Linked DNA regions of Homo sapiens: all the other regions are linked to region 2. The links come from fine-mapping of genetic effects on gene expression. A gene starts in region 2. Each other region holds a variant in brackets. All regions are shown on one strand. Distances are from middle to middle. Region 1 overlaps ZSWIM9 (zinc finger SWIM-type containing 9). Region 2 holds the start of PLA2G4C (phospholipase A2 group IVC). Region 3 overlaps CARD8 (caspase recruitment domain family member 8). Region 4 holds the start of LIG1-AS1 (LIG1 antisense RNA 1). Region 5 overlaps CARD8 (caspase recruitment domain family member 8).

Region 1 (6,664 bases), 74 kb after region 2:
CTTTTGACAGAACTAAGGGTGGTAGGTATAGAATTTTAGTGAACACTTACTGCTTGCCATATTCCAGACACTGTGTAGGTGCTTTACCTATATTAACTCTTTTCATGCTCATGACGATCCTATGAGGAAGGTATGATGAGTAGGACCTTCCTTGTAACCTATGAGGAAACTGAGGCATAGAGACTTGAAGTGACTTGCCCCAGGTCACACAGCTGGCATATTCTTAGGGCCCTCTACTCTTCTCTATGCCTGAAACAATTCTTAGTTTAAAAAAAAAAAAAAGGTGAGTGGAAAGGAAGAAGAGGGCAGCAGAGTGATGTGACCAGGGCGGTGGTGGTTCCTCCCACAGGCCTCCCCAGCCCGGCTGCCCCGCCTTCATCATCGTCAAGCTGAGCCCGCTGCGGGACCGCCTCGTGGTGACGGAGTGCCAGCTGACCCACTCACACCCGGCCTGCCCGCTGGAGTTCGCCTACTACTTCCGCCCGGGCCACCTGCTGGCCAACGCCTGCCTGCCGGTGCGCACCACCAACAAGATCTCCAAGCAGTTCGTGGCCCCAGCCGACGTGCGCCGCCTGCTGTCCTACTGCAAGGGCCGCGACCACGGCGTCCTGGACGCCCTGCACGTGCTCGAGGGCCTCTTCCGCACCGACCCCGAGGCCAAGGTGGGGTCTCGAGAGAGGCAGGCCGGGGGAGGGGGCGGGGGAAAGCCGCGCTGAAGACTCGTGGGTCATTCATGCCTTCATCCGCCCTCTCATCCCTTCACTCCTTTCCTCCATTCATCCGTTCATTCATTCAATAAGTACTTACCGAGGCATTGGGGATGCAGCAGCAAACCAGACCCACGTGGTCTCTGTCCGCAGAGAGCTTACCTTCTAGGGTAGTGCTGCCCAGTAGAACTTTCTTCCAGGATGGAAACGTTCTGTGATTCTGCACCCCCAGCCACAAGTGGCTACTGAGCACTTGAAATGTGTCCAGTACACTGAGGAACTGAATTAATTAATTAATTAATTAATTTTTTTGAGACGGAGTCTCACTCTGTCACCCAGGCTGGAGTGCTCTATCACCCAGGCTGGAGTGCAGTGGTGCGATCTGGGTTCACTGCAACCTCCGCCTCCCGGGTTCAAGCGATTCTCCTGTCTCAGCCTTCCGAGTACCTGGGACTACAGGGCGTGCCACCACGCCGGCTAATTTTTTTGTATTTTTAGTAGAGACGGGGTTTCACCATGTTAGCCAGGATGGTCTCGATCTCCTGACCTTGTGATCCGCCCGCCTCGGCCTCCCAAAGTGCTAGGATTACAGGCGAGAGCCACCACGCCCGGCCTGAATTTATTCTAATTAATTGAAATTTAAATAGCCACCTATGGCTATTGGCTGCCTTGCAGAGGTAACTGCCAGAACGCCCCTGCAGTTCTGGCGGGAAAAACCAACAACTGACAAACATGTCCAAATATGATGTAACATCACTAGGGGCTGGCTGGGTGCTAGCAAGAAGGGGAGCCACAGTGATGACAAATGCTATGTAAGTTTTTTTTTTTTAATCTTTTTTTTTTTTGAGACAGGATCTCACTGTCACCCAGGCTGAGTGCAGTGGTGCAGTCATGGCTCACTGCACCCTCGATGTCCCAGGCTCAAGCAATCCTCCCACCTCATTCTCCCGAGCAGCTGGGACAACAGGCGTGCACCACCACACCCAGCTAATTTTTTAGTTTTTGTAGAGATGTTTGGCGGGGGGGGGTCTCCCTATGTTGCCCAGGCTAGTCTTGAACTCCCAGACTGAAGCAGTCCTGCTTCGGCCTCCCAAAGTGCTGGGATTACAGGCATGAGCCACCACGCCAGGCCTACTTAAATTTTTTTTTTTTTAATTGAACTGCACAAACAGAAAATGCACAAATGATAAATACTTAGTTTGATGAATGTTCTCAAGGGGAGAACACACCTGAACCCACCATGCAGATGGAGAATTAGGAGAAGGAAGAGTGCTATGTCCTGTAATGTGATGGAGCGATAAGTTATCATCAAGGAGAAAAAGGCCGGGGCCTGGAGCGGGACAGTTCTAAGGGTGCTGTTTGAATTGGTCAGGGAAGGTCTCTTTAGCAAATGATGGTGAAGCAGAGGAGATGGAACAGAGGCAAGGGACCCTCATTCTGTCATCAGAGGGAAGAGAATTCTAGGCAGAAGGAACAGCCAGTGCAAAGGCCCAGAGGCACGAGCAAGCTTGTGTTGGAGGAACAGTGAGGATGGCTGCTGCTCCATAAGGAATCTCTGCGGCTTTAATCCAACTTCAAGTTTGGGGTGAACTTGAAGTTTAAAGAGGAAAGAAAGATGAGAAAGTAGGGGAAGAACTGGTTTCTCCTCCTGGCTGTGCCTTTGTCTCCCTTGTGTGTGGAAGAGGTCCCAAGGCAGGGTAAAGTCGAGATTCAGCTCTGGCACACTCTTCCTGTCTTCATCTCATGCCCAGTAAGAAGCCCTGATTCAAGCCACCAGCCCAAGCCCAGGCCTCTGTCCCGACATAATAATAATTTTAGCTAATGTTTATCAAGCACTTACTATATGCCAGGCACTACCCTAAGTGCTTTACATACTATAACTCATTTTCATCTCACCTGAGCCCTATGAGGAAATAGTCCACCATTCTCATCCCCATTTTACAGACAAGGAAACTGAAGCACAGAGAAGTCAAGTAACTGGCTCAAAGTCACACAGCTATTTAGTGACAGAGCTGGGCTTCGGACCCACACAGCCTGGATCCAGACCCATGACCTTCACCATGGGGACAAACACACATGCACTTCCTACTCCACTGGTCTTTGCTGATCTAGTAACTCTCCTCCACTACCCACCATGACATAAATAAGCCTCAGCTGTTCTTCCCTGAACCCACCCTCTGCAGGATTGTCCCTGTGCAGAACAGCTCATTCATAGATCAGAGCCTTCCCTGGAAGGGGAGTTGTCTTTTCATTTTGAAGGCTGTCTTGGAATCTCGGCTAAACCACGGTTGGCTCCTG[C/G]GTCTGTGTTTTGACCTGCTTTCATACTTTTTTTTTTTTTTTTTTTGAGACGGAGTTTCGCTCTTGTCACCCAGGCTGGAGTGCAATGGCGGAATCTTGGCTCACCGCAACCTCCGCCTCCCGGGTTCAAACGATTCTCCTGCCTCAGCCTCCTGAGTAGCTGGGATTACAGGCATGCGCCACCATGCTAATTTTTGTGTTTTTAGAAGAGACGGGGTTTCTCCATGTTGGTCAGGCTGGTCTTGAACTCCTGACCTCAGGTGATCCCCCCGCCTTGGCCTCCCAAAGTGCTGGGATTACAGGCATGAGCCACCGTGCCCAGCCCCTTAATGCTCTTGAAAGAAAGGAGGAAGAAGTTCTAGGACAGGAGAGACAGATTAGTGAAGCAACATTTAAATATTTACTTTTTGAATATGTCATACATTCACATGGTTCTAAAAAAGGTATGTGGTGAAAAGTCTTATCACATCCTGTCCCCCAGGTCCCCTCCCCTGCAGAGTTATTAGCAGCTTATAAATCATATCTCGCTTTCTATCCTATGGACCAGCACTGCCCGGTGGAACTTTCTACAATGATAGAAATGTTCCTTATCCAGGCTAGGCATGGTTACTCACACCTGTAATCCCAGCACTTTGGGACTCTGAGGCAGATGGATCACCTGATGGCAGGAGTTCGAGACCAGCATGGCCAACATGGCAAAACCTGATCTCTACTAAAAATTCAAAATTAGCCAGGCATGGTGGCAGGTGCCTGTAATCTCAGCTACTCGGGAGGCTGAGGCACAAGAATCGCTTGAACCCAGGAGGCAGAGGTTGCAGTGAGCTGAGATTATGCCACTGTACTCTGGCCTAGGTAACAGAGTGACACTCTTGTCTAAAAAAATAAAAAGAAAGAAAATGGTTCTTATCTGTACTGTCCAATCCAGAGGCCACTGGCCACACATGGCTACAGAATGCTTAATGAGGCCAGTATGACTGAGGAACTGAATTTGTCATTTAATTTATCGAAATGTAAACAACCTAATGTAGCTAGTGGCTTCTGGATTGGACAGCGCAGCTCTGCACATATACAGGTCAATTTGCATGTCTGTATGTTTAACTTTAATTTTTAACTTTATTTCCTCTTTCTGCCCCGCCACCCCCCACCCCCAGCAAGCAGGGCAGCCTAGTGTACACGCTGTTTTTGTTTGTTTGTTTGTTTGTTCTTTGAGACAGGGTTTCACTCCTGTCACCCAGGCTGGAGTGCAGTGGCACGCTGTTGGCTCACTATAACCTCCACCTCCTGGGCTCAAGTGATTCTCCTGCCTCAGCCTCCTGAGTAACTGGGACTATAGGCATGCACCACCATGCCTGGCTAATTTTTGTATTTTTAGTAGAGACGAGGTTTCACCATGTTGGCCAAGCTGGTCTCAAACTCCTGACCTCAAGTGATCCACTCACCTTGGCCTCCTGAAGTGCTGGGATTACAGGTCGGGGCCACCACACCCGGCCTGTACATGCTGTTTTGCATCTTGCTTTATACGTTGGGGAGTGCCAGATGTCACCATCTTTCGTTCTTCCTCTGGGGCTGGTCAAATCCCCCTGAGAAAACTCCTCTGGCCTCCTGGCGGGGGGTGAAGGCCAGGCTGCCAGGGCCAGGCTGCCAGCTTCTGGGAGCTGCAGGGGCAGAGGCAGGGAGCTGTCAGGCATTCAGCCAGCAAGACGCACTCAGTACCCACTTGGGGTTCAGAATCCCCCTCCCTCATCTTCAGATGGGCCAGATGTCCCCAAAGCCAGCGGCCCCTTTCTGTTTCACCCTGTCTACAGAATAAACCCCCAGTCACTGGGGGTGGGGGAAGAGTAAGGGGAGAGGGGAAACGAGATTTGGAGGTCTAGCTGCTGCTGAAACAGCCCTCAGTTCGTCTTTATTTTGCCTTCTGCAAAACTGGCCTGGTGTTGCCAGCTCCTTTTGAGGACTTTGCTACCGGTTCTCAGCATCCCTCAATTGCTGGCTTAGGATTCATGGGTTTTTAGGGGTGGGGTGGGATTAGCATGTCCAGCTGCTTTCCAGTTTCCAAAGTTCTGTCCCTATCATATTGCCTCTGATTTAAAAAAAAAAAAAAGCCATTTTAAAAAAAAGATGTAATTGAGGTTCAAGAGAGAGTGAAACTAGAGAGGTGTTCAATCCATCACTTTTACACAGAAATTTCACCTTTTTTTCACTTATAAAATCTAATGAAAGAGTTCTATATTATTATGTTAATAATACAGTAGTAATATAACAGTATAATGTAATAATTAATATATTATATTAATTATATATTATAATTATATATTATATTATATTATATATATTATATATTATATATTAATTATATATATTATATATATTATATATTATATTATAATATATTATATTATATTATATATATTATATATTATATTATTATTATATTATATTATATATATTATATATAATATTATATATATTATATATTATATAATATAATATTATATATTATATTAATATTATAATATGTAACGCATAACATGTAATATTGATAATATAATAGGTGCGATGGCTCACACCTGTAATCTCAGCACTTTGGGAGGCCGAAGCGAGAGGATCACTTGAGCCCAGGAGTTCAAGACCAGCCTGGCCAACATAACGAGCACCTGTCTCTACAAAAAATTAAAAAAAAAAAAATTAGGCATGGTGGCATGCATCTGTAGTCCCAGCTACTCAAGAGGCTGAGGCACGAGGGTTGCTTGAGCCCAGGAGCTTCAGGCTGCAGTAAGCTATGATCACACCACTGTACTCCAGCCTTGACAACAGAGTGAGACCCTTTAAATAGATAGATAGATAGATAGATAGATAGATAGATAGATAGATAGATAGACAGACAGACAGCAAGCTTTAAATTTTCATCCCAAGCCTAGGTCAAGCAACAATCAGTCTTTCCACTTCCCAGCAGTCTTCCAAAGGAAGGATTATTTGTAAAAAGTGCCTGCACTTCCTGAGTTGGGTTGCTCTCTTGATCTTTGGAGGGGATCAGACAAGAAGGATGCGCCCAAAGCCACAAGGCATGATTTAAGGGCAAGACTGGGGGGCGACTTCACCCAGGGAGGTGTTAATACCTTTTTTTTTTTTTGAGATGGAGTCTCGCTCTGTCTCCCAGGCTGGAGTGCAGTGGCGCAATCTTGGCTCAGCACGACCTCCATCTCCCAGGTTCAGGTGATTCTTGTGCCTCAGCCTCTTGAGTAGCTGGGACTACAGGCGTGCGCCACCAGGCCTGGCTAATTTTGTGTGTGTGTGTTTTAGTAGAGATGGGGTTTCATCATGTTGGCCAGAATGGTCTCGATCTCCTGGCCTGGTGATCTGCCTGCCTCGGCCTCCCAAAGTGCTGGGATTACAGGCGTGAGCCACCGCACCCAACCTTTAACACCTTTTATCACCTGCCCTGCCTGATGATGATGGGCTTTGGGGTCCAGTCACATCTCCATTCCCTCACTTGTGGCAGGCACCAGGGTAACCAGCAAGCAAGCCCTGAAAAGAGAGACCTTGCCCGGAAACGTTGCAGCGTTCTCTTACGTGTATGCTTTGCCTTCTGAGAATGGCGAGCATTGATGCAAGTGTATCCCTTTTAAGAATACTCAATGGGGCCAGGCGTGATGGCTCAC
Region 2 (6,664 bases):
GTATACCTGGCTGCACCCTCTAGATAGCAGTAGCAGAATTAGTGAAAGTATTAAAATATTAAAGTCTTTGATCTTTCTGAAAAGAACATAAAAGAAATAATGACATAAGCTATCCTCTCTCTCTACGCCTTGGCTACCTAACATAGAAGGGCTCCCTGTCCAGTGGACACGTGACTCACATGACCTTATCAATCATTGGAGATGACTCACACTCCTTACTCTGCCCCTTATTATCCAATAAATAACAGCGCAGCCAGGCATTTGGGGCCACTATCGGTCTCTGCGTCTTGGTGGTAGTGGTCCCCCAGGCCCAGCTGTCTTTTCTTCTATCTCTTTGTCTTGTGTTTTTATTTCTACGATCTCTCGTCTCCGCACATGGGGAGAAAGACCCACAGACCCTGCAGGGCTGGTCCCTACAGTGGCGCAATCATAGCTCACTGCAGCCTCCAACTCTTGGGCTCAAGCAATCCTCCTGCCTTGGCCTCCTGGGTTGCTGGGACTACAGGCATGCACCACCACGTCTGGCAAAGTTTTAATTTTTTTGTAGAGATTGAGGTCTCACTATGTTGCCCAGGCTGGTCTCATTCTCCCGGGCTCATGCAATCCTCCTGCCTCAGCCTCCCAAGAAGTGGGGATTACAGGTGTTAGCTACCACACCCCACTAAAAAGCTGAGTTCTGTGTTTCACGACAGTGATATTATTTATAGAAGTAGCTGGGGAAGTTATAAATCATGCGACCCCTGGTTACGTGACTCTGGAGCACATATAGAAAAGGAAGCTAAGGGATGGCAGGTCATTCTTCAACCCACGACTGTTCTTTAGCAAAGTTCCAGCACCTTCATGATTCTAACCTTGTCTTATGAATGTGACTTCAGGCCAGGCACAGTGGCTCATGGCTGTAATCCCAGCACCTTAAGAGGCCGAGGTGGGAGGATCACTTGAGGTCAGGAGTTGGAGACCAGCCTGGCCAACATGGTGAAACCTTATCTCTACTAAAAGTACAAAAGTCACCTGGGCATGATGGCGGGCGCCTGTAATCCCAGCTACTCAGGAGGCTGAGGGAGGAGAATCACTTGAACTCAGGAGGTGGAGGTGCCAGTGAGCAGAGATCATGCCATTGCACTCCAGTCTGGGCAACAAGAGTGAAACTCTGTCTCAAAACTAAATAAATAAATAAAAAGTAAATGAATGTGGCTTCAATCTCTCAACAAGGACTGGGGGTCAGTTTTCTTTGTCTCAAAGTTTAACTATGAATTAAATTCCTCTCATGGTAATTTTGGCCTCTGCACTAGAATAAGAAAAAAAAATCTAGCCTGTGAGGTTAGAAACAAGATGGTCAGTCATGTTAGCTTTCTCTCATTACTTACATTTCTGCGAAGGCAGTTTCAAGACCCCCCTTATGAAATTAATCAGCTTCCCCCCACCACCTCCAAATTCATATGTTGGACTTGTAACCCCCAGAACCTCAGAATGTGACTGTATTTGGACATAGGATTCTTTTTCGTTGTTTGCTTTTTGAGACAGGGTCTTGCTTTGTCACCCAGGCTGGAGTGCAGTGGTGTGATCGTGGCTCACTGCAGCCTCAGCCTCCTGGGCTCAAGCGAGCCTCTCACCTCAGCCTCCCGAGTAGCTGGAAGTGCAGGTACATGCTACCATCTCCAGCTAAATTTTTTATGTTTTGTAGAGATCAGGTCTTGTTATGTCACCCAGGCTGGTCTTGAACTCCTAGGCTCAAGAGAGCTTTCCACCTTGGCTTCCCAAAACGCTGGGATTATAGGCATGAGTCATCGCACTCGGCCAGACATAGGCTCTTAAAGGGGTGACTAAGTTAAAGTGGGGTCCTGAGGGTGGCCTGGAATTTGGTTTGATTGGTTTATTTTATTTTATTTTTTTTTGAGATGGAGTCTCGCTTTGTGCCCTAGGCTGGAGTGCAGTGGCGCAGTCTCGGCTCACTGCAAGCTCCGCCTTCCGGGCTCACGCCATTCTCCTGCCTCAGCCTCCGGAGTAGCTGGGACTACAGGCGCCCGCCACCACGCCCAGCTAATTTTTTGTATTTTTAGTTGAGACGGGGTTTCACTGTGTTAGCCAGGATGATCTCGATCTCCTGACCTCAGGATCCGCCCGCCTCGTCTTCCCAAAGGGCTGGGATTACAGGCGTGAGCCACCGCGCCCAGCCTGATTGGTTTTATAAGGAGAGATTAGGGCCTCTGCAAGAGGCTTCAGGAGAAACCAACCCTGCCAACACCTTGATCTTGGACTTCTAGCTTCCAGAAGTGTTAGAAAATAAATTCCTAGCCGGGCGCGGTGGCTCACGCCTGTAATCCCAGCACTTTGGAAGGCCGAGTGGGGTGGATCACGAGTTCAGGAGTTTGAGACCAGCCTGGCCAACATGGTGAAACCCCATCTCTACTAAAAATACAAAAATTAGCCGGGTGTGGTGGTGTGCGCCTGTAATCCCAGCTACTCGGGAGGTTGAGGCAGGAGAATCGCTTGAACCCCGGAGGCGGAGCTTGCCGTGAGCCGAGATCGCGTCACTGCACTCCAGCCTAGGCGACAGAGCGAGATGCTGTCTCAAAAAAAAATAAATAAATAAATAAAATAAAATAAAATAAAAAAGAAAAAGAAATCCTGTTATTTAATTGCACCCAATCCCTGGTACTTGGTTATGGCCGCCCCAGCGGGATGAAACAGCCCTCCCTGCCCCCACGGCTTGCCTGAGCCTGGGTCTGGGGCGTGTGCGCATGCGCGGTGGAGCTTGTGCTCCGGAATCCGGTGCGGAGGCTTGGGCTCCCTGCGCTTAGCGGTGTAGTCGCTGGACAGCTCCTTCAGCCGGAATCTCCGCGGGTGAAGACTGCGGGGATCCTCGGTGCCAAAGCTTCTGTGGTCCTCCTGCTTTCCTTTTCCCCCTGTGGGAGGAGGTCGCGGGCTGGAGGTGTTTCCTCCTGGTCCTGAGCAGGGCCAACCTGGAGGTAAAATGGCCCCTGCGCCTTTAAACAGCCCTCCTCGGCTTGTAGGCCCTGCTTGGTTGCTCCAGCTTTTTCAGCTGTTCCAGAGCTCACCCGGAGCTATTTTCATCCGTGGGATCACGTGGAGGGCTGGGACTTTCCAGGCTTCCTTAGTGATGTCACCCTTCTGTCATTAGGCACCCGAGACCAGTATTCAAAAAAAGAATGTTGTCGTTATATAACTATATTGGAGATAAGTATTCCTCAAAACAGATTAGCTAATCCTCCTATGCATCTGGCTGTCTAATAACCATCATATATAATATCATACTCAAATACCCAGAAAAAGAAATATTGAGGCCAGGCGTGGTGGCTTACGCCTGTAATCCTAGCACTTTGGGAGGCTGAGGCAGGCGGATCATGTGAAGTCAGGAGTTCGAGACCAGCCTGGCCAACATGGTGAAACACCTTCTCTACTAAAAATACAAAAATTAGCTCGGTATGGTGGCGTGTGCCTGTAATCCCAGCTACTACTCGGGAGGCTGAGGCAGGTGCTTCATCCTGGGAGGTGGAGGTTGCAGTGAGCCAGATCCTTAGGGCCAACTCTGGTTCATTTAATGTCCATTTTTAGAAAACCTGTGAGCTCCATTCACAGTGAAGGTTTGAAGCCCAGAAGTGGCCTCCCAACAGGGTACCACATTTCCCAGCACCTTTGCAGCTAGGTGTGGTCATGTGAGCGAGTTATGTGGTCATGTGACCGAGTTCCAGTCAGTGCAATCGGGCATCTGTGGGGAGCACCGCTTCCAAGAGTGGCTCCTAGAAACCTCCCATACTACCCTCCTGCCTACTCTTCCTGAAGCCCAGCACTAAGCGTCATCCCAACTCGATGGGTTTTGAATTTTTTTTTTTTTTTTTTGAGATGGAGTCTTACTCTTTGTCGCCCAGGCTGGTGTGCAGTGGTGCAATCTCGGCTCACTGCAACCTCCGTCTCCTGGGTTCAAGCGATTCTCCTACCTCAGCCTCCCGAGTAGCTGGGAACATAGGCATCTGCCACCACGCCCGGCTAATTATTTTTGTATTTTTAGTAGAGACAGGGTTTCACCATGTTGGCCAGGCTGGCTCGAACTGCTGAACTCAAGTGATCCACCTGCCTCGGCTTCCCAAAGTGCTGGGATTACAGTTGCGAGCCACCGCACCCAGCTTGAATTCTTATTTTTTAAAAATAGATATGAGGCCATAATCCTAGCACTTTGGGAGGCCAAGGCAGGAGTATCACCAATTTTAGAACAGGATTTCACCAGGGGGAAGATGGTCTCCCCTGCTCCCCCTAACGCCAGGCTCACCTCTTCAGTGCCCGCAACTCCAACCATCGCAGGATCTTTTCACTCCTAGACCTGACCATGCCACTGCCCCGCCTGCGGGATAAGGTTCTACACCTCGCAGGAGCTCATGAGGCTCTCCACAGTATAGTTAGTAGTTATAGATGCAGGGTCAAGGAGCTGACAGCATGGACCAAACCCTGGCCCACCACTTCCTAGATAGTGGACCTAGGGAAGGTAACTTACATCCCTGTGCCCCTCAGTGTCCTCACCTGTTAAATGGGGAGAATAAAAGTACCTACCTGGTGGAGCCATCATGAGGGTCACTGAGGAGTGAGGATGACCCTGACTAGCTTCAGCAGAGGGACATGGCGGCCGTGTGTGGCAGATGTGTTCCTGGGGCCCTGCACTGGTGCAGGGAGGAAGAGCCAAGCCCAAAGGAACCATGGTCTCCACACAAAGCCAGTAATGTGGGGATCCCCTGACATACAACATTTACTTTTTTTTTTTGCCTTAAACATTTTATTTGAAATTGAAACACAAATGCACACTAATTTGCCAGTTCTTTAAGGCAGAGCTGTATCAGGAACTCTTAGCTATGAGAAACAAGTCTTTTTTTTTTTTTTTTTTTTTTTTGAGACGGAGTTTTGCTCTTGTTGCCCAGGCTGGAGTGCAATGGCTCGATCTCGGCTCACTGCAACCTCCTCCTCCCGGGTTCAAGCGATTCTCCTGCCTCAACCTCCTGAGTAGCTGGGAGTAACAGGCATGTGCCACTACGCCCGGCTAATTTTGTATTTTTAGTGGAGACGGGGTTTCTCCATGTTGGTCAGGCTGGTCTTGAACTCCCGACCTCAGGTGATCTGCCCGCCTCGGCCTCCCGAAGTGCTGGGATGACAGGCATGAGCCACTGTGCCCGGCTGAAAGCCATGTTTTAGAGTGGCATAATCGCCCTGGGGCTTATTCTTCCCCTACTCCCATGAACAAAAGCCCACAGTTAGGCAGCTGCTGCCCTAGGTTCGCCGGTTTAGGGTCGTCAGGAGAGTTTGTTACTCTTTTTCCTCATCATTACAAGGTGGTGACTTGGCTCCAGCCATCATCTCTAGTCAAGGCAGGAGGAGGGGAGGAGCTGCCACAACCAGGGCTGTCCTTTTTGGTCAGGAAAGATGTTTCTCCAGAAGTCCCCAGCAGCCCCTGTGCTTATGTCCCCTGGGTCTGCCCACACAGGGCTACAGGGCCACTGCTAGCCCCAAGGAGACTCGGAAGGCAATGTTGTCTTCTTGGGCTACAACAAATAGAAACAGAATGCCCAAGAGATTGTGTGCACAAGAGACCATGATGGAGACACAGGAAGAGAGACAGGGAGGCTGAGTCACAGTGACAGACAGCAAAGTAAGCCTGGCACAGACTTGCACGGCAGAGAGCAAAGCCTCGCAGATAGAGAAGGAAGGGGAGAGAGGGCGGGTGGGAGACAAGGGCAGAGGAACCTGATGAGAGAGAAGGGAAGGAGGGAGGGCAGATGTGAGAGGCAGAAACAGAGTGTGAGGGGCAGGGGACAGCTGGGAGCCCTGTGTCCCCCCTGCGGGAGTATCAGGACACCCTGACACTCTCATGCCCGGAAGCTCCTGTTCCACGCTGGGCCCCGGGGTTAGAGGCCTCCTGCTCTGGAAGACCCGAGCCTGGGCCCCGCTCCGCGTGCAGCCGTTTTCCCCAAGCCAGCCCCGTGGTGCCCAGGGCTGGGTGGGTGTTCCAGGCATCCTGCTTGCCTTGTCTGACCATTTCCCGATGGTTTTCCTCTAACATATCATCCCATGTGGGGTGGCTGCAATAATAACAGCCCCCATAGATATCCAGGTCTTAATCGCTGAAACCTTTGATGTGACCTATTTTTTTTTTTTTTTTGAGATGGAGTCTCGCTCTGTCGCCCAGGCTGGAATGCAGTGGCACGATCTCGGGTCACTGCAACCTGTCTCCCAGATTCAAGTGATCCTCCTGCCTCACCCCACTAGTAGCTGGGATTACAGGCACGCGCCACCATGCCCAGCTAATTTTTGTATTTTTAGTAGAGACGGGGTTTTGCCATGTTGGCCAGGCTGGTCTCGAACTCCTGACCTCAGGTGATCCACCTGCCTCAGCCTCCCAAAGTGCTGGGATTACATGCGTGAGCCACCGCGCCTGGCCCTTTTACATTTTTATTAATTTTATTAATAAAATTAGAGGAGATGAAGTCTGGCTGTGTTGGACAAGCTAGTCTTGAACTCCTGGCTTCAAGTGATCCTCCCACCTCAGCCTCCCCAAGTCCTCCCCAAGGCGTGAGCCACTGTGCCTGGCCTCTGTGAATGTGTGATCTTATGTGACTAAAGGGACTTTGGGATTGAGTTAGGATCCTGAAATGAGATTATC
Region 3 (5,000 bases), 120 kb after region 2:
GCCTACTAAAGGCTTTCGGAAGCAGAAATCTTTAGGCAAAGACTAGAAAGAGACTAGAAAGATGAGCAGGAGCCAGTCTTGCAAGGGAAACACAAAGGGTAAGAGCCCAGAAGCAGGAATTCTTGGAGTATTTGAGGGATGAAAATTCAGGACAGAAGTGCTGGAACATAATGAGTGAGAAGAGAGTGATAGGAGATGGATAACTGAGATGTTCTAGGGTCACAAGAAGTCATGGCTTCAGCTGGGCACAGTGGCTCACACCTGTAATCTCAGCACTTTGGGAGGCTGAGGCGGGTGGATCACCTGAGGTCAGGAGTTCAAGACCAGCCTGACCAATATGGTGAAACCGTGTCTCTACTAAAAATACGAAAATTAGCCGGGCATGGTGGCGTGCGCCTATAGTCCCAGCTACTCAGGAGGCTGAGACAGGAGAATTGTTTGAACCTGGGAGACGGAGGTTGCAGTGAGCTGAGATCACGCCCACTGCACTCCAGCCTGGGGGACACAGCAAGACTCCGTCTCAAAAAAAAAAAAAAAAAAAGCCATGGCCTCTAGGCCATAGTAAATTATTTGATTCATGTTCTAAGTGTAACGTGAATCCATTAAAGAATCTTTGGCCAAAGTGTGATGTAGTAATGTATTTTTTAAGTGTATTAGAATTAAAAAATTTTAATTTTTTTTCTTTCCAACATTTATTTTATTTATTGATTTATTTAAGACAGAGTTTCGTTCTGTTGCCTGGAGTGCAGTGGCAAAATCTTGGCTCACTGCAACCTCTGCCTCCTGGGTTCAAGCAATTCTCATGCCTCCACCTCCCAAGTAGCTGGGATTACAGGCATGTGCCATCACATCCAGCTAATTTTTTGTATTTTTAGTACAGATGGGGTTTCACCATATTGGCCAGGCTGGTCTCGAACTCCTGGCCTCAAGTGATCTGCTTGCCTCGGCCTCCCAAAGTGCTGAGATTATAGGCATGAGCCACCATGCCCAGCCCCATCATTTATTTTAGGTTCAAGAAGTACATGTGCAGATTTGTTGTATGGGCCAATTGCATGTAATGGGGGTATTACTTATTTTGCAAAAAATCTCCCTGTTCCTAGATTTTAAAAATAGGTGGTAAATGAAAAACAATGGAACCAGTGAGATAAGCTTGAAGACTTTATCCATATTTCTAGCAAAAATGGCAGTGGATGGCACTAAAGCTGGCAGTGAAGCTGAACGGAGTAAAACTGGTTCAAGTTATGCTATGAAAATGAAAAGAATCAAAATTGATGAGATGCTGGATGTGGGAAAGAAAAGAAATCGAGGCCGAGGGGGGCAGATCACTTGAGGTCAAGAGTTCAAGACCAGCCTGGCAAACACGGTGAACCCTGTCTCTACTAAAAAATAAATACATAAATAAAATAAAAAAATACAAATAGCTGGGCGTGGTGGCAGACACCATAATCCCGGTGAGGCATGAGAATCACTTCACTTGAACCTGGGAGGCAGAGGTTGCAGTGAGCTGAGATTGCACCACTGCACTCCAGCCTGGTGACACAGCAAGACTCCGTCTCAAAAAAAAAAAAAAAGAAAGAAAAGAAAATAAGTGGAGGAATTAAAGATGAACACTAGAGTATGGCTTGAATGACTCAATGAAATTTAGTCTCTACCCTGAATGGGGAAGAGAGTTGAATAAATCGCTTAAAGGGAGAAAGTTGAGTCAATATATACAATTAGATATGCCAAATAAACACTCATATGGAGAGGGGAGGTTGGCGGTTCCAAGTTGGAGCTCTGGAGAATGTTCAGGACTGGAGATATAGACTGAGAAATCCTCTGCTTGTGGGGAATTCAGTTACGAGACGAAGAATTCATCAAGTCCGTCAGTGAAGACAGAAAAGAGAAAGGAGAGTCCAAGATTCAGCCCTGGAAACTCAATATTCAGAGAAGGTTTCAGAGCAAGAACCTGCAGAGGCGATTTGAGGAGAGACTCAGAAAAGTCACGGAGATGCCAGGAGCAGTGGTCCATGCTTGTAATCCCAACACTTTGGGAGGCCAAGGCGGGCAGATCACAAGGTCAGGAGTTCAAGACCAGCCTGTCCAACACTGTGAAACCCCATCTCTATTAAAAATACAAGAATTAGCCAGGTGTGGTGGTGTGTGCCTGTAATCCCAACTACTCAGGAGACTGAGGCAGGAGAATCACTTGAACCCAGGAAGCAGAGGTTGCAGTGGGCCGAGATCACACCACTGCACTCCAGCCTGGGTGAGAGGGCTAGACTCCATCACAAAAAAAAAAAAAAGGAAAGAAAAGAAAAGTCACAGGGAAATTGGGATAATATGGTGTCGCAGGATCATATAGAGCAGAGATCCCCAACACCCGGGCCGCAGACCAGTACCAGTGTGTGAGCTGTTAGGAATCGGGCTGCACAGCAGGAGAGGAGCAGTGAGGGAGCAAACCTTCATCTGTATTTACAGCCACTCCCCATCACTCACATTACCGCCTGAGCTCCTCCTGTCAGATCAGCAGTGGCATCAGATTCTCATACGAGCGTGAACCCTGCTGTGAACTGCCCATGCAAGGGATCTAGGTTGCACGCCCTTTATGAGAATCTAATGCCTGATGATCTGTAAGTGTCTCCCATTACCCCCAGATGGAACCATCTAGCTGCAGAAAAAG[A/C]AGCTCAGGGCTCCCACTGATTTTACATTATGGTGAGTTGTGTAATTATTTCATCATATATTACAATGTAATAATAATCGAAATAAAGTGCACAATAACTTTAATGTGCTTGAATCATCCCAAAACCATTCACCACCCTGGTCTGTGGAAAAATGGTCTTCTGCAAAACTACTTCCTGGTGCCTAAAAGGTTGGGAACTGCTGTTATAGAAGAGTGTTTCCAAGGAAGAGCGTGGTCAGTGGAATAGCATTCCACTGAGACCCCAGGTAAGAATGAGTTGACACAAAGTCACTGACTGGGTGACGCTAAACAGAGCCATTCTAAGGAAGGGTGGCAAGGTCATCCACACAGAGAGATCTGGGAACAGAGTGAGAACTGAGGAATATGGAGACTTCGGGTACATGGAGCTGTTGATCCATTCATTGAGAAGCATAAGGGAAAAATTGGAAGTATGACTGCAGGAGGGAGAGCAGTCAAGGACAGCATTTCCAATGTGGGGGCCATTCTAGATTTTGGCGGGTGGAAGGGAGTGATGCCCTAGGGTAGGAGAGATTGACGGTGGAGGGGAAAGAGGATGCCTCGGGTGTGGCTCCCACATAAGGGAAGAGGGAAAGGGACCCAAGACTCATGTTAAGTAGTGTCCTTGTGTACGAAGAGGGAGGCGGCCGGGCGCGGTGGCTCATGCCTGTAATCCCAGAACTTCGGGAGGCTGAGGTGGGTGCATCACTTTAGGTCAGGAGTTCAAGGCTAGCCTGGCCAACATGGTGAAACCTCACCTCTACTGAAAATACAAAAATTACCAGGACGTGGTGGCACACATCCGTAATCCCAGCTACTCGGGAGGCTGAGGCAGGAGAATCGCTTGAACCCGGGAGGCGGAGGTTTCAGTGAGCCGCAATTGCCACTGCATTCTAGCCTGGGCAACAGAACAAGACTCTGTCTCAAAAAAGAAAAAAAGAAAAGAAAAGAAAAAGAACAAGGAGGCTTCTTGGGTTTCAGAGGAAAGAAATAGGTGAAGACGGGCCAGAAACAGGCTCACAGAGCTGACAGTGAAACAATGAGGTTTTTCCATCCCATTTTGTTTCTAGTATATCAATAAGGTATGAAGCAAGTAAGCATATGAGATTTGGGAATGATGAAAGAAGAGGCACTAAGTGAAGGATAGGAAAAGGGTGGGCTCAGAATGAAAACAGAAGTTATGCAAGAATTCACTGGAATGTATGTATTTCTGGCCCACTCTAGGAATAGTCATCTTTATCATTCAGATTAAAATGTTTTCTCCTGTATTTAAGTACCCACAGTTACTCACCACCCTAAGTCCTGACAGGCAGGCACCTGCCTCTCATTCTTGGGATGTTGGAGCATTAGACGGGGGGACGATACAATTTAATGTAATCTTTCTGGCATAATCGCCCCACCTAGGCTGGAAGGACAGAAGTGGGACTTTATCCAGGTGCACAGCAGCTACAGCAACCAGCACGTCTGCTTCATCACTAACTCAGAAGAGAGTGTGGGAATATGAGCCTTTAATAAGTGCATTAGAGGGAGATGCTACTGAACAGGAGGAGGGTTACTCCAGAGATGTGAGTGTGCCTGTCAGTGTAATTCACATATTATCCATTTAAAATTTGGTGAGAGGCCAGGGGTGGTGGCTCACGCCTGTAATCCCAACACTTCGGGAGGCCAAGGCAGGTGGATCACCTGAGGTCAGGAGTTCAAAACCAGCCTGGCCAACATGGTGAAACCCCGTCTCTACTACAAATACAAAAATTAGCCAGGCATAGTGGCGGGCACCTGCAATCCCAGCTACTCAAGAGGCTGAGGCAGGAGAATCGCTTGAACCCGAGAAGTGGATGTTGCAGTGAGCCAAGATTGCGCCAGTTCACTCCAGCCTGGGTGACAGAGTAAGACTCTGTCTCTAAAAAAAGAAAAAAACAACCTGGTGAAAAAATCTCTGCATCTTCTCTGTCAGCTGGTCCCCCAAAATCACTAACTTTCTCCTTCTTGAGAGCCAGAAAAGGGAATTTCCTTTTTCAGTAGCACTGAATCACTACTGAAGATGGTTAGGGAAGCACATAGCTCCAGAGTCAGCACCTTGGATGAACCTCAGGAAGGGTGACTCCTGCTTCTGTCCATGAAAACCATGCCTTGCCCTTTCTGTTCCACGAGGAACTGGAGGGGCCAAGGGGATAACCTGGAAATATAATCGTCATCTTCTCTGGTCTCCTAAATCACTCAGCTTACCTTTGTTAGCAAGGCGTCGCTGGGGACAAGGTACAAGTGGAACTTAATATCTTCGGGGTGGGGGTGATAATAGATCAATGTGTTGGAAGTGATG
Region 4 (5,726 bases), 37 kb after region 2:
TCTGATGCTCACACAGGGCATGGATGGCCAAGACAGATAGTGCCACTGCAGGGCTGTGCATGGCCTTTGGTATGAACTTGGGGTTTAACAAGCGGTGGCCGGCATTACAATGAGGCAGCAGAGTGTGGTGGGCAGGGGAGTCTAGAGCCAGTCAGCCTGGCTAGAACCACAATGCTGCCACTCCCCACCTGTGTGGCCTGAGCATGGCATTAAAAACAAATAAGAATAGTAGCAGCAGTTACCGTGACAACATGCTGGTCATAATCAAGGCCAGACCCTGGGCTAAGTGTTTCACATCCTCAGAAGAGAGACACAGAAAGGCTAAGTCACTTCCTCAAGGTCACACAGCTGAGAGAGGTGGAGCTGGGATTCCTAGCCAGTCCTCAATACTGTCCCACCTCCCCGCTTTACTTTTCTCACCCAGGAAACCAGGATAACAACAGAATCTACTCCCAGCAGTGTTGTGAGGATTTGGAGCATTGCGTCAGGGAAAGCCCGTTGCTGAGTGCCTGGCACGTGGGGAAGAGTGGGTGGAAGAACATGCTTCCTCTCATCACTGTGCCCCCATCTGAGAGGTGAGGAAATTGGAGAGTGGGAAAGTTTGCCTGTCTCTTGGAGGCAGCCATTGGAGACAGAGGGGAAGTGACCAGGCTAGGAATGGTGCAAGAAAAGCAGTCATGCCTGGCGTGGTGGCTCACGCCTGTAATCCCAGCACTTTGGGAGGCCGAGGCAGGCAGATCACTGAGGTCGGGAGTTTGAGACCAACCTGGCCAACATGGAGAAATTAAAGGGGTTTGGAATAATCCCTGCTGTTCAGCAGAAAGGACAGGTGGGTTAAAAAGTATGACGCAGTGAGTCCAAAATCTCTTTGATGTCATGCCTCTACAAATGAAACAGATAACGACAAGAAATTCTTTCAGCTTTAACATTTCATGATTAAAGTTTAAGTCTAACAAAAAAGTGTCTGTCTCTATTAAAAATACAAAAGTAGCCGGGCATGGTGGCGCATGCCTGTAATCCCAGCTACCTGGGAGGCTGAGGCAGGAGAATCACTTGAACCCGGGAGGTGGAGGTCGCGGTGAGCTGAAATCGTGCCACTGCACTCCAGCCTGGGCAGCAAGAGCAAAACTCCGTCTCAAAAGAAAGAAAAGCAGTCGTAGTATCACTTGAAATAGAAAACAGAACTTTATATACAGTAGGACACTGATTTTATTTGGAAAACATATTTATAAATACACAAACACGGACACACACTCAGGAGGCACGATATGGCAATGGGGAAGAAATAACTGCTAGGAATCAAAAACATTCCTTAGGGTCCCAGGCCTGGCCCTACCCCCACCTCCCTGTGTGACCTGGCGAGGCCCGACCTAACCTCTCTGGGCTAATCATGTCAATGTGTGTAAAATGGCTAAAGTGCTCCCTTCCTCCACAGGAATACTGCAGAGAGGACGTTAACGTGCTATTTAACCTCCTTGATAAGGTCTCAATTGGGGGTACAAAATTGATGTCAAGAATCCTCCGAACACTTTTTTGTTAGACTTAAACTGTAATCATGAAATGTTAAAGCTGAAAGAATTTCTTGTCGTTATCTGTTTCATTTGTAGAGGCGTGACATCAAAGAGATTTTGGACTCACTGCGTCATACTTTTTAACCCACCTGTCCTTTCTGCTGAACAGCAGGGATTATTCCAAACCCCTTTTCCGTTAATTTTTTTTTAGCTTTCAGGACATCAAGAATTCAAGAGGGGATGAAGTCCACGCTGCTAACACCATCACATTGTATTTGAAAACACAATCTTTAGAGGAAAAAAATAACTTCAGATGGATATATGATTATGTAAGAAATCAGGCTGGCCGTGGTGGCTCATGCATGTAATTCCAGCATTCTGGGAGGCTGAGGTGGGAGGATCACTTGAGTCCAGGAGCTCGACCTGGGCAATGTAGTAGGACCCCATCTCTACAAAAAGTAAACAAAAATTAGCCCGGCATGGTGGTACATGCCTGTAGTTCCAGCTACTTGAGAGGCTGAGGTGGGAGGATCCCGAGCCCAGGAGCACCACTGCACTCCAGCCTGGGTAACAGAGCAAGACCCTGTCTTTAAAAAAAAAAACAAGAAACAAAAAACAAAAAACCCAAAAAACCTAAGTTCTATAAAGAGGAATTTTTGTCTGATTTGTTTCCTACCAGATCTCAGGCACCTAAAATCCAGTAGCTAACACGTAATCAGTCCTTTGTAAATACTTACTGAGTAAATAAATGAGTCCATGATTGACTAGTGAAAAAAAAAAATCTGAAAGTGCTCATTTAAATTTCTTTCATGGCAGATTTCCTGGGCTTCCTAGGGGCCAGCCCCAGTGCTGGGAGCTAGGCAAGAAGACTAAGAAGGCTGGGACCTCCCACAGCCCTGGCTCTGTGGGAAGGAGCTTATGTCTGGTTAGGGAGGCTCTTTACCATGTGACAAGACATAAAAGACAGTCTGACTCAAGTGCTGGGGACACGCACCTCCTCTCACACATGAAGGGAGAGGCACCCGGCTTCCCTAAGCAGGTGCAATAGGAGTTGGGGCCTGAGGGAAGCCTGCTGGGCAGGGTGGGTTAGGGACAGTGTTGTAGGCCGGGGTCAAGCATGTTCAGAAGCAGGGAGGAGGCTGGGTGTGGTGGCTCACGCCTGTAATCCCAGCACTTTGAGAGGCTGAGGCGGCCAGAACACCTGAGATTAGGAGTTCGAGACCAGCCTGGCCAACATGGTGAAACCCGGTCTCTACTAAAAATACAAAAATTAGCCAGGCTTGGTGGCGAGGCACCTGTAATTCTGGCTACTTGGGATGTGGAGGCAGAAGAATCGCTTGAACCTGGGAAGTTGAAGGTGCAATGAGCTGAGATCGTGCCACTGCACTCCAGCCTGGGCAACAGAGTGAGATTCCATCTCAAAAAAAAAAAAAAAAAGCAGGGAGGAATGACAGCACGTGGGGACATGGTGTGCAGAGGGAGCAGGAAAAGGCTGCAGATGCCAGGAGGCTGCAATGTAAGGTGGACAGGGCTGGCTCATGAGGGCACTGGGAAGCCCAGCATATCCTCTATGCTGGGGAGAATCGCAGATGGGTTTTGAGCATGGCAGAGA[T/TG]GGGGGGGTGACCTCATTACTTTATAGGATATTTATCCACCCACGCATCCAATCATCCATTCAGCCAGTCTTCAGTGCGGCCTCCTGTGTGCATGTTAGATGTCGTGGGAATCAGCCCAGACATCTCTTCAAATAATTAACAAAATTACAGTGAAGCAATTAATTGCTTAACAACCTATTCAGTGTCCCACAGCCCCAGCACACTAAGCACATCACGAGGGCTGGGGCAGGGCGGCCGGCTCTCTATGGTTCATCCTCGTGGGCCGCCCAGGGCTGGCAAAGAAGGGGTGTTCAGTGAATTTTAAGGCAGAGTAGACGCGCCTGCAGGCTTCCAGCACATACACTAAATCTGGTGAGTTCAGGCCAGGTGTACTGGCTCACGCCTGTAATCCCAGCACTTTGGGAGGCCGAGGTGGGTGGGTCACCTGAGGCTAGGAGTTCAAGACCAGCCTGACCAATACGGTGAAACTGTGTCTCTACTGAAAATACAAAAATTATCTGGGTGTGGTGGCATGCACCTGTAATCCCAGCTACCTGGGAGAATCGCTTGAACCTGGGAGGTGGAGGCTGTGGTGAGCTGAGACAGCACCACTGCACTGCAGGCTAGGCGACAGAGCAAGACTCTGTCTCAAAAATAAAAAATCTGGTGAGTTCAGAGCCAGAGGAACAGAGAGGTAGGAAGTGAGGCCAGAGAGGGAGGTGGCAGCCAGTGGCCAAATGGGCTTAGATTTTCTCCTGACGGCTCTGGGGAACCCTAGAGGGGCAGAGTCAACTCTGGGTGTTAGAAAGATCCCCCAGGCTCTACGGGGATCAGACTGAGGATGAAAGACTGGAGGCAGGGTCAGAGGGTGGCTGGGGCCACGGTCAGCAAACTCCGACCCTGGACCGTTTCTACAGGTTCTGGGATCTAAGAATGGTTTTGCAACAGGGGCCAAATGTGTCCCATAAAGCCTAAAATATTTACTCTCTGGCTCTTTATAGAAAAGGTTTGCCAAGTCCTGCAAGAGGAGGAAGCCTGAGCTGGGGGTGGGGCTGTCGGAATGCAGAGAAGGGAACACATCCCGAAGAACCTTTCCAGACCTGGACACTGACTCACCCCTCAGCAGCTCCCTCCTTTCCTGGAGCCCCTGGCTCCTCTTCCTTCACTTCTTTTTTGACTGCTGGCTTCCGGGGGGCTAGGAATGAAGACAGAAAACAGTGGGTCTTTTCTCCTTCCGGTAGCCCCCACCTCCCATCCATTCTGCACCCAGCACCACCCCAGTGCTCAGGGAGATGGGAGACAGGCTGGTAGAGACAAGGCCGACTTTCCAACCAGCAGGAAAGGAAGAAGGGTCTTCGCAGCATCTCAGGCCTCTGGAGAGAGGCTCACCAGCCTCCTGCCTGTACAACCCCGGGAGGTGGGGTGAGCAAGGGAAACTCACTGAAGAAGCTGCTGAGCGTCTTGGGAGCTCTGCGGGGAGGCTTGGTCTGCTCTTCCTCCTCCTGCAGTTCCTGCTTCGTGGCCACCTCAGGCTCTGAAACGCTTTCCGTCGGGGTCTCTGCTTCTGCGGTGAGAGAGCTCAGACGGTGATGCAAACTCTTTGACCCTGAGACTTTTTTTTTCTTTTTTTTTACCCCCAAGATCATTCTGACCCTGCAGATGGAAGATATAACTACACCTACCCTTTTCCTTTCTGTTAGCTTTGAGCTGAGATCTCAGGCCTGCTGTCTACTCCTCAGTGCTAACTAGCGGAATTCTAGCACTTGGCCTGAAATAGGAGACTTAGGAATAGTGGTAAAAAGAAATCTCATCGTCATGAGAAGAAAATATTCCCACTCCTCCCAGCAGCTGCAGAAAATCAGATACAACTCTGTATCCCTAAAATTCTCCCGGCAAGTGTTGTTTCTAACACAGGGGCCTCATGGACACTTGGACCACCCTGAGAGGGTAACTTCAGCCTCTAAAATCCTGTAACTCAGTTTGGTTGTCTAACTTAATTAATAACATTTAATTTACACCTATGACTTCTGAAAGCTATGAATACTTTTTATCTTTTACTTTGTCTGAGGCGGGGGAGTTCTTGCTCTGTGGCCAAGGCTGGAGTGCAGTGGTGCGACCATAGGTCACTGCAACCTCCACCTCCTGGGCTCAAGCGATCCTCCCACCTCAGCCTCCCAAGTAGCTGGAACTACAGGTACGTGCCACCACACCCAGGTCATTTTTGTATTTTTTTTGGTAGAAATGGGGTTTCGCCATGTTGCCCAGGCTGGTCTTGAACTCCTGGGCTCAAGTAGTCCACCCACCTCAGCCTCCCAAAGAGCTAGGATTACAGGTGTGAGGCACCGTACCCGGCCTAGGAAGATTTTTTAAAGAATGGCTGGCTCTTTCCTCCTTTCCCACATGCATGGGGAAAAATAATAATTAAAAAAAAAAACCCGAGTAATAAAAACTATTATTCTTCTAGATTCGGCATTTAAGCAATAAGTTTGAGAATCTATGCCTTGTTTAAATTAATCATCCTCCAAAGACTTCTGACCCCAAAATCAGGAGGTGGGGCAGGGCGGAGGAGAGGACCAGAAACTCACTGGAGGTCTTTAGGGGCTTGGGAGGCGTGGTGGGCTGG
Region 5 (5,000 bases), 110 kb after region 2:
TATAAATGTATCTCCAGAGATTCAAGGAACTATCAGGAGATCTTTGGCAAATTGTCTGGGAGTTTCTAAACTTTAAAAAATTGTGTTTATGATGTTGAGCTTCTGTGAATGGATAAAACATTTTCCAGAACTTTTTAACAGATTACCTCAGGGAATATGACACCCCGAAAATGAAAAGCATGAGTATGGAAGAAATGATTAAATTGTGAAGAAAGTGGAACTAAATAGTCCTTATGTTTCTTCTGACTCTTAGAATCTTCTGTTCTTTACCCCCTAGGTTCGAGGGTTTCCACCCCTCTCCCAGGCCCCTTGAGCATTTCACTTCCTAGAGATGAACAAATGCCACCATTGTTGTGTTATCACACTGATAATACACTGACAATAGATTTCTCTTTTTTTTTTCTTTTTTGGCAAGAACATTTTATTTTATTCAAACTATTTTTTTTAATTTAATTTAAGTTCTGGGATACATGTGGAGGACATGCAGGTTTGTTACAAAGGTAAACATGTGCCATGGTGGTTTGCTGCACCTATCAAATCATCACCTAGATATTAAGCCCTGCACGCATTAGCTATTTATCTTCTTCTTTTTTTTTTTTTTTTTTTTTCAGATGGAGTTTCGCTCTTATTGCCCAGGCTGGACTGCTGTGGCACAATCTTGGCTCACTGCAACCCCCTCCTGGGTTCAGGTGATTCTCCTGCCTCAGCCTCCCACGTAGCCAGGACTACAGGCATGTACCACCACACCTGGCTAATTTTGTATGTTTAGTAGAGACAGGGTTTCACCATGTTGAGCAGGCTGGTCTCGAACTCCCGACCTTAGGTGATCCTCCCCCCTCGGCCTCCCAAAGTTCTGGGTTTACAGGCATGAGGCACCGTATCTGGCCTTTTAGCTATTTATCTAGATGTTCTCCCTTCCCACATCACCCAAAAGGCCCCAGTGTGTGTTGTTCCCCTCCCTGTGTCCATGTGTTTTAACACTGACAATAGATTTCTTTTCTTCTCTGGGAAAGAACCATAAACAAGATTTCTTCTTTGAAATCCAAGGATAGAGGTACATGATGGATCCCTGTCTAAAAATGCCAGCCTCGCCCACTCACCTACCTGGCTTCACCTCAGTATCCCACACCAAAGTCCCATGTCTTTTTTCAGTAATCTCAAGTTGAATGGGTTCCTTCATCTGCCCAGCATAGAATTTTGAGAAGTGCTGAATTTCTCCAGGGCTCCTGTAGGACAATTTCAACTCCTAGAGGAAACACATCAGTTGACTTGAAGCAGTGGAGGGTGGAAAGGCCCGGCTCCCTACAGTGAACTGGCCAATGGAACTTAACCCGTTTCCTGTGCAATGTCATGGCTGGTTGAGTGGGAAACAGAGGGAGAGAGGTAAACAGCTCTTTACATTTACAATGTTAGGAAATGCTTTTATACCAGGAAGGGAAGAATAACCTAGCTGTCAACACCACATGAGTCAGAGAAAAACTATCTGAGCTACCAACTGAATACAAACGTCTTAGATTTTGAGGGTTTTGAGGCCCCTCATTAATGATGCGACCAGCTCAGAATCCGAGATTCTATAGAGAAGCAAGAAAGCTTCCAAAGCAGCCCCATCAGGTCTCTCTGAGCCTCGCTGGGAAGCCGGGGTCAGATAAGCCATTTCAGGTCCCTCTCTGTTTTGCACCCAGTCTCCCCAGGATTCCTAAAAAAAGCTGCCCTGGGGAGCAAGAAAGCCCCTTATGCAGGACAGAATTAGGAAAAGCTTAGCTCATGCAAATCTCTAGTTTCTTCAGAAAACAAGCCCCCCGACCCAGCTCTTGGAAAATAGGGATTTAAAAAATTACAAAGGGTGAGATTGTTGGCTGGAATCTTTTTAAATGGAAGATGACTCTGAGGAGAGTTTACCTCGCTCAAGATCATCACCTCTAGGGCGGGCGCGGTGACTCACACCTGTAGTCCCAGCACTTTGGGAGACTGAGGTGACCGATTGCTTGAGGTCAGGAGCTCAAGACCAGCCTGGCCAATATGTTGAAACCCCCATCTCTACTAAAAATACAACAATTAGCCAGGCGTGGTGGCAGGTGCCTGTAGTCCCAGCTACTCAGGAGGCTGAGGCAGGAGAATCGCTTGAACCCAGGGAAAGAAGGTTGCAGTGAGCAGACATTGCGCCACTGCACTCCAGCCTGGGCGACAGAGTAAGACTCTGTCTCAAAAAAAGATTATCACCTCAGGTTGCAATTGCCACTTCTTATCTCACATTTACTATGTTGTATCATTCTGGATGAAATACCCTGCATTTTATTTATTTATTTCTATATCAGCAATGTTTATGGAAGGTTCTGCAACAGCCAAGAATGTATCTTGCCTGAAGGACAACCAAACTTCTGGGGAAGGCAGTCCCTGCTTCATATTAATTGCTGTGGAGTTTATCAAGGAAACTGGGAACTAAAATCAGAGCAAGGTTGGGCACTTTATTAAATTCTTATGCTCTAGTATACTTAGAAAAAGATCACTGAACTGATGTCTGCAATAAGCTTCACATCTTGTTGTCTATATGGCTGGAAAAATCATTTTTCCTATTTTAGCCTTAGTGTCCAAAAAGGAGACATGTAAATACTGACACCTAACCCTCTTGTTTCTCACCTCTTCCAAGGTCCGCAAACAGGAAAAAGCCATCTACGCCAAAACAATAACATTGGTCCGTCCCATTCTGAATTAAAGACCTTGAAATCACTGGGATGTGTTTTCCCATTAAAACTGGAAAACAATTAAATCTTGATACTTTGTTCTAGAGATGGTATATTGTGCTGGACAACCTCATCTTTATTTTAGAGAACATATGCTGTGAGACATCTTTGAAAATCTATTTGGGGCCAGGTGTGGTGGCTCGAGCCTGTAATCTCAGCACTTTGGGAGGCCAAGGTGGGCAGATCACGAGGTCAGGAGTTCGAGACCAGCCTGGCCAACATGGTGAAACCCC[G/A]TCTCTACTAAAAATAAAAAATCAGCCGGGAGTGGTGGTGCATGCCTGTAATCCCAGTTACTCAGGAGGCTGAGGCAGGAGAATCACTTGAACCTGGGAGGCGGCGGTTGTAGTGGGCCAAGACCACACCACTGCACTCCAGCTTGGGCAACAGAGCGAGACTCCATCAAAAAAGAAGGAAAGAAAGAGAGAAAGAGGGAAAGAAAGGAAAGGAAAGGAAGGAAGGAAGGAAGGAAGGAAGGAAGGAAGGAAGGAAAGAAAGAAAGAAAAAGAAAGAAAGAAAGAGAGAAAGAGGGAAAAAAGAAAGAGGAAGGAAGGAAGGAAGGAAATCTATTTGGAAATATACTAGCTTTAAGTTGGTTAATACTCTTTGAATCAGTAATTTCATTTAGGACACTCTAGCCCTGCAGGAAAAATGTAAAACCATATGAATGGAAAGACTTCTTGCCAGGGCACTTCTTGGGAGAAATTACATGCGACTAAATGTTGAATAATCATGAAATAATGAAAAAAGCTCTAGGGATTTCGCTACATGGCATATCATGTCCCAGTAAATCTGTATGTAGGAATAATTTAAATTGCACAGAATTATATAGTAATCTCCATTTAAAAATATATAAAATGAAATATATAACATAAAATCAGCTCTTCCTTCAACTACCTTAACAAATACATATTAAGTGCGTTAGTTAGGCAAGACATCAGGACTGAAGATAATTATAACAGGGAAATGGAAATTTCAGTTTGGGAAACTCAATGTGTAGTTTTAACCTAACATAAGTATGTCAAATACTAAAATGTTACCTCTGCCTTAGGGTCTTGGAAATATGCAATATGATTAATACTATTTTTCTATAATTTCAATTTTTTTAAAGGGCATATTTGTGATTAATAAAAGAAAAATGTTGCATTTTGCTAAGATTCTTCCATTTGTTTCAGAAATATAAAACACTCTGAAACCTGCTGAGTTGGGTTTGAATTCTACTAACCTTGGGCATTACTTTCAGGTTAGCAGAATTAGACACAATATAACTGGAACCAAAGTTCAGGGGTTCCATTGGGGGCGAAGTCTGCAGGCGCACACCATGGAAGCGATCTTCCTCATCATCTATCGCCTAAGGAAGAAGGGGCAGAAACATTAGAGAGCACAAAAAATAGTAAAGCAAGTAGTGGCATAAAAAGTTATTTATATGGTATATTAAGTAGCACGTAGGCTATGATTCAATTGATATAAAGATTAAGGTATTCAACTGATATAAAGATTGTGATAGGTAGATACACAGATATGAATGAATATGTCTCTATGCACAAAGAGACATATTGATGAAATTTTACTGAAAGATATCTCAGGGCCAAAGGATTTCTTGTGAATGTGAACTTATAAATTCTTGTATAGTTTGCTTTTATTTTTACACTGTGGAAAGATTGGCTGCGTACTTATGAAAGCACAGGACAGAAGGACTTCTTTTTGGTGCCTCAGCAGAGAACTGGTAGCTCAGCTGTGTCTGTGAACACGTCTATGATGGACAAGGGTAGAGATGTTACTTCTCTCCGTCACAGGGCTGCTGTGAGATGCTCAATCACCTGACCACCAGCGAGCAGAAACAGTCACCTCTGCGAGGCCCAGCAGCCACAGCAGAAAGCGAGACCTCAAAACTATCTCTAAGCAGCCAGGCACGGTGGTTCACACCTGTAATCCTAGCGCTTTGGGAGGCCGAGGTGGGCAGATCACAAGGTCAGGAGTTTGAGACCAGCGTGGCCAGCATGGCGAAACCCCGTCTCTACTAAAAATATAAAAATTAGCCGGGCGTGGTGGCGGGCGCCTGTAATCCCAGCTACTCTGGAGGCTGAGGCAGGAGAATCACTTGAACCCAGGAGGCAGAGATTGCAGTGAGCCGAGATTGCGCCACTGCATTCCAGCCTGGGCGACAGAGCGAGACTCTGTCTCACCAAAAAAAAAAAAAATCTATCTGAGCAGCCATCAAAGACACAGAATGGAATTCAAACAAAACCTTTCTACCTTTGG

Evidence for each region. PIP is the estimated chance that this variant, and not a neighbour inherited with it, causes the effect.
Region 1: its variant is fine-mapped to the expression of PLA2G4C in pancreas (GTEx, PIP 0.94).
Region 3: its variant is fine-mapped to the expression of PLA2G4C in lymphoblastoid cells (TwinsUK, PIP 0.95).
Region 4: its variant is fine-mapped to the expression of PLA2G4C in sun-exposed skin (GTEx, PIP 0.97). The same link has a PIP of 0.9 or more in sigmoid colon and unexposed skin.
Region 5: its variant is fine-mapped to the expression of PLA2G4C in sun-exposed skin (GTEx, PIP 0.92).

Annotation. Positions count from the first base shown.
Region 1 is chr19:48,182,106-48,188,769 of GRCh38, forward strand. ZSWIM9 (zinc finger SWIM-type containing 9) reads left to right here. Exons shown (of 4, transcript NM_199341.4): 3 at 350-662. Among named protein-coding and RNA genes, the nearest start is that of ZSWIM9, 15 kb to the left of the region's middle. RefSeq lists an enhancer at 4,638-4,697 and a silencer at 6,291-6,523. The variant C/G (reference allele first, on the strand shown) is at 3,006.
Region 2 is chr19:48,107,773-48,114,436 of GRCh38, forward strand. It overlaps PLA2G4C (phospholipase A2 group IVC), which reads right to left and starts at 3,045. Exons shown (of 17, transcript NM_003706.3): 1 at 2,715-3,045. RefSeq lists an enhancer at 2,861-3,020.
Region 3 is chr19:48,225,532-48,230,531 of GRCh38, forward strand. It overlaps CARD8 (caspase recruitment domain family member 8), which reads right to left. Exons shown (of 14, transcript NM_001184900.3): 10 at 4,907-5,000. Among named protein-coding and RNA genes, the nearest start is that of CARD8-AS1, 28 kb to the right of the region's middle. The variant A/C (reference allele first, on the strand shown) is at 2,663.
Region 4 is chr19:48,145,544-48,151,269 of GRCh38, forward strand. It overlaps LIG1 (DNA ligase 1), which reads right to left. Exons shown (of 28, transcript NM_000234.3): 7 at 5,689-5,726; 8 at 4,545-4,667; 9 at 4,220-4,298. LIG1-AS1 (LIG1 antisense RNA 1) reads left to right here and starts at 314. Exons shown (of 3, transcript XR_007067281.1): 1 at 314-339; 2 at 425-575. The variant T/TG (reference allele first, on the strand shown) is at 3,124.
Region 5 is chr19:48,217,767-48,222,766 of GRCh38, forward strand. CARD8 (caspase recruitment domain family member 8) reads right to left here. Exons shown (of 14, transcript NM_001184900.3): 11 at 3,964-4,089; 12 at 1,105-1,246. Among named protein-coding and RNA genes, the nearest start is that of CARD8-AS1, 35 kb to the right of the region's middle. The variant G/A (reference allele first, on the strand shown) is at 2,975.